Regions from separate parts of the Homo sapiens genome. Here all the other regions are reported to be linked to region 1. The links are microRNA targets in miRTarBase. Many come from high-throughput screens and were not tested one by one. Region 1 holds a microRNA gene; each other region holds the end of a gene's coding sequence.
The links. Region 1 holds the annotated microRNA hsa-miR-664b-5p (UGGGCUAAGGGAGAUGAUUGGGUA, at 1,048-1,071, shown strand). A microRNA usually pairs through its seed, bases 2 to 8, with sites in the 3' UTR of a target mRNA and lowers its output. Matches are read on the target gene's strand: a 7mer-m8 pairs with bases 2 to 8, a 7mer-A1 pairs with bases 2 to 7 and ends in A, and an 8mer does both.

Region 1 (3,259 bases):
TGCCTAGTAAAGTGAGATGGCTTTTACACCTTTTATGATGACTGCTTCTGCTGGAGTTGAAATGTTTTCATTCTGCATTTGTGTAGTTCGGTGCTTTGTTCAAAGGTAAGTGTTTTCACCAAAGTATGTTTTGCATGTGTTTTTTATTTGTTGCAATTTTGACTGCTTAGAAGTTTCTGTTGTCAGAAGTAAATTTAAGACAATGCCAATTTTCCTCCCATCCATGAAACATACCATGCTGAATATACCTGCAACTTAAGTGTTAAAAATTCTGCTAATATCAGAATTACAGATCTTTTTTTTTTTTTTTTTTTTTTTTTGAGACGGAGTCTCGCTCTGTCGCCCAGGCTGGAGTGCGGTGGCATGATCTCGGCTCACTGCAAACTCTGTCTCCCGGGTTCACACCATTTTCCTGCCTCAGCCTCCCAAGTAGCTGGGACTATAGGCGCCCGCCATCATGCCCGGCTAATTTTTTGTACATTTAGTAGAGACGGGGTTTCACCATGTTAGCCAGGATGGTCTTGATCTCCTGACGTCGTGATCCACCCGCCTCTGCCTCCCAAAGTGCTGGAATTACAGGCGTGAGCCACCGTGCCTGGCCAGAATTACAGATCTTTACAGCAAATGCTTATATTTTAAGAAGTGTGTCTGTCACCTCTAGTCTTGGTGGCTCAGATGAAGGATAACTGCATTTCTCAACCAGTGATGTATTTACAGTAGGTGCTGCTTTTCTTTTGTGTGTGTGTATCTTAGGAATCTTTTGGGTGAGTTGTGAGGCTGGCACCTACATTCGGACATTATGTGTGCACCTTGGTTTGTTATTGGGAGTTGGTGGTCAGATGCAGGAGCTTCGGAGGGTTCGTTCTGGAGTCATGAGTGAAAAGGTATGTGTTACGGGGCTAGAAGTTTTAGAGCTGGTTCTTACCATCTGCCAGCCTTTGATGGCACTCCACTTGCTTCATGTCGTGGGAAAGATGCTTTCCAAAGTGTTGAGTTCAGTCCAGGGCAGCTTCCCTGTTCTGTTAATTAAACTTTGGGACATTAAAATGGGCTAAGGGAGATGATTGGGTAGAAAGTATTATTCTATTCATTTGCCTCCCAGCCTACAAAAATGCCTGCTTGGGGTCTAATACTTCAACGGTTAAAGATGCCTGGAAGAGGGCGCGGTGGCTCACGCCTGTAATCCCAGCACTTTGGGAGGCCGAGGCGGGTGGATCATGAGGTCAGGAGATCGAGACCATCCTGGCTAACAAGGTGAAACCCCGTCTCTACTAAAAATACAAAAAAAATTAGCCGGGCGCGGTGGCGGGCGCCTGTAGTCCCAGCTACTCGGGAGGCTGAGGCAGGAGAATGGCGTGAACCCGGGAAGCGGAGCTTGCAGTGAGCCGAGATTGCGCCACTGCAGTCCGCAGTCCCACCTGGGCGACAGAGCGAGACTCCGTCTCAAAAAAAAAAAAAAAAAAAAAAAAAAGATGCCTGGAAGAGCCAGGACTGAAGAGGCTGAAGACATAATGAGCTTGGACTAGTAAACAAGTGACATTCAGTTTTAGGAAGTTTGGGGTCTGATGGGCTGAGATACAAATAAACTGAATTATTTTCATACATGGCTGCTTTTCAGGACCACATGGTGACAATGCATGATGTGCTTGATGCTCAGTGGCTGTATGATAACCACAAGGATGAGAGTTACCTGCGGCGAGTTGTTTACCCTTTGGAAAAGCTGTTGACATCTCATAAACGGCTGGTTATGAAAGACAGTGCAGTAAGTTCCGGGTTAGGAGTTTATATTTGGAAAGAACGTACTCCAAAGATGAGGCTTGCTCTTTTTATTGTTTTCCTTGGGTTTTATTTTATTTTTTTCAAGTCCAAACCAAGTATATTAATTTAAAGTAAAAGTTTAATGGTAGGCATACTTAAAAATAAGGCACATTAGGCCAGGCACAGTGGCTGATGCCTATAATCCTAGCACTTTGGCAGGCTGAGGCAAGAGGATCACTTGAGTCCAGGAAGGAGTTTGAGACCAGCTTGAGCCCAGGAGATCAAGGCTGTGAGCTGTGTTTTTATGATGATCAGAGAGTTGGCCTTTTATAAATTAAAACATTGTCTTTTTCTCTAACTTGAGGGATAAAAATTTCTGGATATTTAAAATGTTTGTAGTTGGTAATTATTTATATTCAAATCTTGTATAGATGTTCACATTTTTTGTATGTGTATAGGCTGTAATAAATACTGAAAGATGGCACCATAATAGTTGAAAAAACTCAGTCACAAAACAGTGGACAACATAAATGTGATGTCCTCTCCTTATCAAACCATTGGCTTCTGGGTGAATGTAAAGGGAGGGGAGAATGTGATCAAAAGAGGTCTAGGTGAGTGGAGATGGTATGAGGCAGATGGGTGCATTGGGTACCATTGAACCTCTGGAGAGGTAGCCTTAACTTGTACCCACTGACCTATAAATTCTGCACCAAGACTTTTGTGTGATTGGTTCAACAGGGCTCAGTAATCTTGTTTTCAAGTTCTTTAAGAGCCTGTTATTGCCTGGATCTCCAGTAAATCTGTTCTTTCTCCTCATAAGGAGGAGAGAGGAGTAATTAAGGAATGCCAAGGCTATTTTTATGTTTCAAATGAAAATATGGACCACGTGCGGTGGCTCACACCCATAATCCCAGCACTTTGGGAGGCCGGGCCAGGCAAATTGCTTGAGCTCAGGAGTTTGAGACCAGCCTGGGCAATATGGTGAAACCCTGTCTCTATTAAAAATACAAAAATTAGCTGGGCGTGGTGGCACGTGCCTGTAATCCCAGCTCCTTGGGAGGCTGAGAATCACTTGAACTTGGGAGATGGAGGTTGCAGTGAGCCGAGAATGTGCCACTGCACTCCACCCTGGACAACAGAGGGAGGTTCTGCCTGAAAATTAAAAAAAAAAAAAAAAAAAAAAGAAAATACTTGTGAGTCTCTAGAACCTGAAAACCTGAAAGTCTTCTTTACTACTTTTGAGTCGTGTGTAATGTGCGGAGAGTGGTACCTATAGCACAGTGAGGTGGCTCTTCTGAGTACCACTCATGCCCCTTGCAGCTAGTGGGCTATAAGTGTCATCCCTGTTTCCTGGTGTCAGGCCCCACTCCCTTGTTGTCCTCCTTTACTCTGGTGTGGGAGTGGGGTGGAGGGCAGCAGCTGGGCCCCTTACACTTGGTGCCATCTCTGCAGGTAAATGCCATCTGCTATGGGGCCAAGATTATGCTTCCAGGTGTTCTTC
Region 2 (3,259 bases), not on the chromosome of region 1:
ACTGGAGTGCAGTGGCAAGATCATGGCTCACTGCAGCCTTGATCTCTTGAGCTCAAATGATGCCCCCACCTCAGTCCCCTGAGTAGCTGGGATTACAGGCATGCACCACTATGCCTGGCTAATAATTTTGTTTTATTTTTGTAGAGAAGGGGTCTCATAATGCTAGCCAGGCTGGTCTCGAACTCCTGGCCTTAAGCAATCCTCTTGCCTCAGCCTCCCAAAGTGTTGGGATTACAGGCATGAGCCAACACACCTGGCTAAAACTGCATTTAGAAAACAATTTTGTCAGATTGGGCATGGTTCTACACATTGTGTAATTTTATATTCTTAGGAAGGTTTTTGTCTTTCTCTTTCCAGCTGTATCCTATGGAAAAGGAACCTATTTTGCTGTGGATGCCAGTTATTCTGCCAAGGACACCTACTCCAAGCCAGACAGCAATGGGAGAAAGCACATGTACGTTGTGCGAGTACTTACTGGAGTCTTCACAAAGGGACGTGCAGGATTAGTCACCCCTCCACCCAAGAATCCTCACAATCCCACAGATCTCTTTGACTCAGTGACAAACAATACACGATCTCCAAAGCTATTTGTGGTATTCTTTGATAATCAGGCTTACCCAGAATATCTCATAACTTTCACGGCTTAAAAATATTTTTATCATCAAAGAGATGATTTAAGTCATCTGTAAGAACAACATGCAATCTTTGTCTTTGCTTCTGGCCTGTGTAAGCAGATGAAAGTTTCCCTTTTAGGTGCCAAAATGCTGAAAATTACCTTTTTAAAGTGCTCTATTGCTGCGATTTGTAGCATACCTTTTTTTCTCAGCAAATTGATGGGTGGAAGCTGAGAAATGTATGGTAAATGTCACAGAGCTACAACCATTCACAGACACCAAATCTCTAGGAGAATAAAAAGCACATTATTCTTTTTCTATCAGAAAAAAACAAGATGCATCACCTTAAAACCAAGATGACATTGTTCTTCTTGGAACATGTTAAGACATCGAATGGTGGCGGGTTAAACTGTACTGCTTAAGTGGAGCGGCTACCGTTATGCATCTATCACAGTTGGGGATTTTGCCTTATTAAGGAAAACTTGTCAATAGTTCAGCTGAAATGACTGAATCACAGAATATTAACTCTGTTATGGAACAAATCATAACAGATTTTACCTGTTTACATTTCAGGTAAAAATGTATCGCATTGTTATCTAATATTAAAAAATTACCCCCAATTTTAGTGACTTAATCCCACACAGTCTTTATGGGTCAGGAATTCAGGCATGGCTTACCTGGATCATTCTGCTAGGGTCTCTCTGAAGTTACAGACAAGATGTCAGGGGATGTGGTCGTTTGAAGGCTTGTCTGGGCTGGAGGTCTATTTCCAAGGTGAATCACTCACATACCTGGCACGTTTCTGTCAGGTATTGGCAGTCCTCAGTTCCTCTCCTCTCAGGCCTCTCCACAGGCTGCTTGAGTGTCCTCATGACACAACAGTTGGCTTACTCCAGAGTGAGCAACTCAAGAGAGAGCAAGGCAGAAGCTACCAAATCTTTATGTTTGAAGTCATGCACCATCTTTTCCACGAGTATCCTGTTGATTATTTTGATCAGCTTGTTCAGTCTGGGAGGGAATTGCACAAGGGCATGAATACTCCACTGGCAAGGATCATTGGGGGCCATCTTGGAAGCTGTGTGAATGAGCAAATGAATGCACAGATAGAATATTAGCAGTGACAATGATGCTAGAGGTCACCTACCCCACTGTCCTCTTGTCCTTCTCCCCCAACCCTCCCCTGCTCCCAGGCAAGAAGCCCTCTAGCCTCTGCTTGATCACTTTCAGCACTCAACATCTTCAGGGAACCTATTCCGCCGTGGGACAGTGTTAATTAGTGGAAAACTCTTTTTCAAAAGTTGAAATCAGTTCCTCTGTGTCTATTACCTGCTGATCACTGTCCAGACTTCTGGAGGACACAGAGCAAGTTTTATTCCTCTTACTGATGGTAGCCTTTCAGATCCATCCCTTCCCTCCAGTATATTAGAGTTACGTAAATTCTTAAAATGCTTAGCAGCTCATTTATCCTGAAGCATCACTTTTGAAGAGTTACAGACATTTAAGAAGTATTTACATTATCATAAATAAATTACATGCGCATTTAAAGAGAACAGAAAAGTATAAAGAAAAATAACTCACCAAACTCACTCATAATTCCAGCACTAAGGGAAAACCACTGCCAATTTCTCATGTCTCCCTTCCAGTTTCTTCTCTGTCCAAATTCAACAAAGTCAAAATCACATTTTGTTCTGTCACAAATCATATAATATTATTTCTACCATTTTTCTTTTTTTAATCTTTTTTTATTATACTTTAAGTTTTAGGGTACATGTGCACAATGTGCAGTTTAGTTACATATGTAAACATGTGCCATGTTGGTGTGCTGCACCCAGTAACTCATCATTTAGCATTAGGTATATCTCCAAATGCTATCCCTCTCCCCTCTCCCCACCCCACAACAGGCCCCGGTGTGTGATGTTCCCCTTCCTGTGTCCATGTGTTCTCATTGTTCAATTCCCACCTGTGAGTGAGAACATGTGGTGTTTGGTTTTTTGTCCTTGCGATAGTTTGCTGAGAATGATGGTTTCCAGCTTCATCCATGTCCCTACAAAGGACATGAACTCATCATTTTTTATGGCTGCATAGTATTCCATGGTGTATATGTGCCACATTTTCTTAATCCAGTCTATCATTGTTGGACATTTGGGTTGGTTCCAAGTCTTTGCTATTGTGAATAGTGCCGCAATAAACATACGTGTGCATGTGTCTTTACAGCAGCATGATTTATAATCCTTTGGGTATATACCCAGTAATGGGATTGCTGGGTCAAATGGTATTTCTAGTTCTAGATCCCCGAGGAATCGCCACACTGACTTCCACAATGGTTGAACTAGTTTACAGTCCCACCAACAGTGTAAAAGTGTTCCTATTTCTCCACATCCTCTCCAGCACCTGTTGCTTCCTAACTTTTTAATGATTGCCATTCTAACGGGTGTGGGATGGTATCTCATTGTTGTTTTGATTTGCATTTCTCTGATGGCCAGTGATGATGAGCATTTTTTCATGTGTTTTTTGGCTGCATAAATGTCTTCTTTTGAGAAGTGTCCGTTCATATCCTTTGCCCACTTTTTGATGGGGTTCTTTGTTTTTTTCTTGTATATTTGTTTGAGTTCATTGTAGATTCTGGATATTAGCCCTTTGTCAGA
Region 3 (3,259 bases), not on the chromosome of region 1:
AGTAAAAACAGGAAAATTTAAGAAAATGTTTGGATGGGGTGACTTTCATTCCAACATTAAAACTGTCAAACTCAATCTCCTCATCACAGGGAAAATTGTTGACCATGGAAATGGAACCTTCAGTGTGTATTTCCGACATAATTCAACAGGCCTGGGCAATGTTTCAGTGAGCTTGGTACCACCCTCCAAGGTGGTGGAATTTGAAGTTTCCCCCCAGTCTACCTTGGAGACCAAGGAATCCAAATCTTTCAATTGTCGCATTGAGTATGAAAAAACAGATCGGGCGAAAAAGACCGCCCTGTGCAACTTTGACCCATCCAAGATCTGCTACCAGGAGCAGACTCAGAGCCATGTGTCTTGGTTGTGCTCCAAGCCCTTCAAGGTCATTTGCATTTACATTGCCTTTTACAGTGTTGATTATAAACTCGTGCAAAAGGTGTGCCCTGACTACAATTACCATAGTGAGACCCCATACTTATCTTCTGGCTGATCTTCCTGCTGTGGTGGAAATGAGGGATACATATGTATTTGATTAGAATGACAAAGAAACAAGCCCAGCTCTTTATGATAAAGGATCCCTTTTGTTTCTGGCAGTGAACAATAGTTCCCTATCAGGTTTTCAAATTTAAAAAAAGAAAAAGAGACATCTTTAAGTGTGAAATTTGTTTCTTTCTATCGTAGGTACCTTTATCTAAAAAGTTAAACTGTTTATGAAACCATCACTTTCATGCAAGATGACTAAGTTCTAGAAATCTTATTGTTTCTCTGAAAGAAACATCAATGATAGCAATATGTGACAAGAAGGAACAAAATTATGCATGTGACAAACATTGCTCTTGAAATGAGCCTGCCTTTGAAATATGTTTTGGAAGGTTACCGCAGAAACAGCAGATGCGGTAAAGGAAAAGATTGTATTTGATAGATGAATTGTGTTTTTGACATTGGACCCTTTTTTTTATATTTCTATCTTTTCCCCCATCCATCTGTGCTGTTATTGATATGAGAGAAAAAAAGGTAAAATTTGTTTCAAAATTCATGTGTGAAGTTACAGTGCCACAGTGGAACCAAGTTCCTTATCATCTGAGCTACAGTTGCGTGGAATGTGATTTGAGCACTTAGCCCTGTGTTGGTCACCATTCTTATGATTCCCCCTGAGTTTGAATACTGATGTAATGGGAAAGCAAATCTGAGAATAAGTTTGTTGAACGATAACAAAAATCATGATGTTTTTAGACTCTTCTGATAAATTCAAATGCTGTGGAATTAATCAAAAAATGACAAAATTTGTATGCATCCTATAGCTTAGAGCTTTATTCAATTCATTCGATAGTGTGATTCTTTACACATGTGTAGAACAGCTCTGAAGTTGAGTGAAAGTGCTTGTTTCCTAGACTAGAATAGAAAACAAAAGTGGGAAGTAGAGGGAGGAAATTTCAGGATTATGGATTCATTATTTCTAGCCTCCCAGATTAAGTTCCCCTTGCATTTAGTTAATATTTGAATAAGAGATCAAACTCTATGTGGAAATAGAGAGTTATATTTAAACATTTCTAATTATTAAGTGCTGACAACCAAGATACCTGGCTTACCAGACTTTTGAAATGACTTTCAAATTAATGTCACTTCACAGTCAGTGCCCTTCTCATCTTCCCTGTGGGGGTGAATAGCAGTCCTATATGGTAGAACTGAATGATCATTAAATTAGAACAGAAACAGGGGTCTGGTTGGCCAAGAAAAAGGCTTCTAGAACTCAGGACGCTCATGGAATGGTCACTCCTTTTACAATAGATGTTAACTTCTTTCTCCCTTCTTATCTGTAAAATATTAATTAAAGTAAAACATTAAATTGAGGACTAAAGGAAGAGAAGTCCTAAACAACAAGAAATACTCTTACCACACTGTTCAAAAAACCAAGAGCTCTGTTCTCTATCTTCATTTCTTTCCTTTTACCGGTAATATCTGCAGTGTTCAATTTTTGTCTTTTGTAAAAATTGTACTAAGCTTAGTGTGTGGTAGTACAGGCTTGAAGTTCTTGCTCTGAGTTCACCACATGTTTTTGTAATTTTGTGGTTGGTGATTAATATTTTGAAACATCTTTTTATTTTCACCTAGAAACAAGAGTAAAATATTATTTATTGTAAAATATGTGGGAATCATATATCTATATATATATACTTAGAATTTTCTGTGTACAGAGAAAGTATGTGTACACATTTTATGTAAATAAAAAGAATTTGCTAGATCTGTCACATTAATCCTGGGTGGTTATTTTTTAAAGACTCTGTTCTCCTTGTTTCTTTTCCTCACAAGGGCTTATTCTGTGCATGTGTGTGTGTGTGATACCAATTGAACAAGAAGGTTTCCCTTAGATACATGTTAAATAGGCATCTTGGCTGTGGAGATTTTAAAGTAGGGCAAAAGAATAACTCACATAAAACATTTTGTACATAGCATGGCATCTAGTAAGAAAGAACTCTACTTGTGAGCTGCCATTATGATTATTATTGTTTTGACGTGAAGTAATGAGGTTTAAAACTATCTGATGTTCCAAAGTTGAGAGATGTGAACATTATTTCTATGCAAAAAAAAAAAACAAAAAAAAAACTGTAAATTGATTTATACAGTTCTTAGATGTTAGCAGCGTTTGTGGAATTTTTTAAAAGTTTCCCATAAGCTCGTTTGTAAGTTGGAGTAGAATATATGCCACATATATTTCTAAGTCATAATTTCATTTCAAAGCATACCTAATTGTCAGTAATGGTACTTGGCACAATATAAATCAGAGCCCACTTAAGCATGCAAATACACACATTTCTACAAAACTATTTTTTGCCCTTTAGTACTGCTATTGAGGAAAAGGATATTCATGGAAGCTAATTTTGCACTCAGTCACAAACTGTTTAAAAACTAAAGCAACAGAACTTTTAAACGTATAGACATATTAACATATAGAAGAGTAATATTTCAAAGAGAGTGCAGCCTACACTACCTTCTTAATCCTCTTTTTTGACAGACAGGAAAACCCAAGTCCCCATGAGGGTAATGATGTGCCCACTAGTAAATGGCAAACCCAACTGAAATGCATTTCTCCTGACTCCTAGTCCCAGCTCTTGCGTTACATAAGAAAGGTAAATTGAAGCAGGTATTCAAGACAACAAAAATAATTGCAATGAGTTTATAACAAGACAGGACCCAGTAGCCAAAACTGAACCTGAAAACGGTGAAAATAACCTCCCCCTAAAATATTTAGGATAATAAT

Region 2: the mRNA of PARP15 is a reported target of hsa-miR-664b-5p. Seed matches in the 3' UTR shown: 7mer-m8 at 3,244-3,250.
Region 3: miRTarBase lists NXPH2 as a target of hsa-miR-664b-5p. Seed matches in the 3' UTR shown: 7mer-m8 at 1,116-1,122.

Annotation. Positions count from the first base shown.
Region 1 is chrX:154,767,549-154,770,807 of GRCh38, forward strand. MIR664B (microRNA 664b) reads left to right here and starts at 1,048; the gene lies at 1,048-1,108. DKC1 (dyskerin pseudouridine synthase 1) reads left to right here. Exons shown (of 15, transcript NM_001363.5): 8 at 754-884; 9 at 1,619-1,762; 10 at 3,211-3,259. It overlaps SNORA36A (small nucleolar RNA, H/ACA box 36A), which reads left to right and starts at 980; the gene lies at 980-1,111.
Region 2 is chr3:122,635,454-122,638,712 of GRCh38, forward strand. It overlaps PARP15 (poly(ADP-ribose) polymerase family member 15), which reads left to right. Exons shown (of 12, transcript NM_001113523.3): 12 at 358-3,259. The coding sequence ends at 647. Among named protein-coding and RNA genes, the nearest start is that of PARP14, 44 kb to the right of the region's middle. RefSeq lists an enhancer at 1-839.
Region 3 is chr2:138,668,153-138,671,411 of GRCh38, reverse strand. It overlaps NXPH2 (neurexophilin 2), which reads left to right. Exons shown (of 2, transcript NM_007226.3): 2 at 1-2,255. The coding sequence ends at 490. Among named protein-coding and RNA genes, the nearest start is that of LINC02631, 68 kb to the right of the region's middle. RefSeq lists an enhancer at 54-777.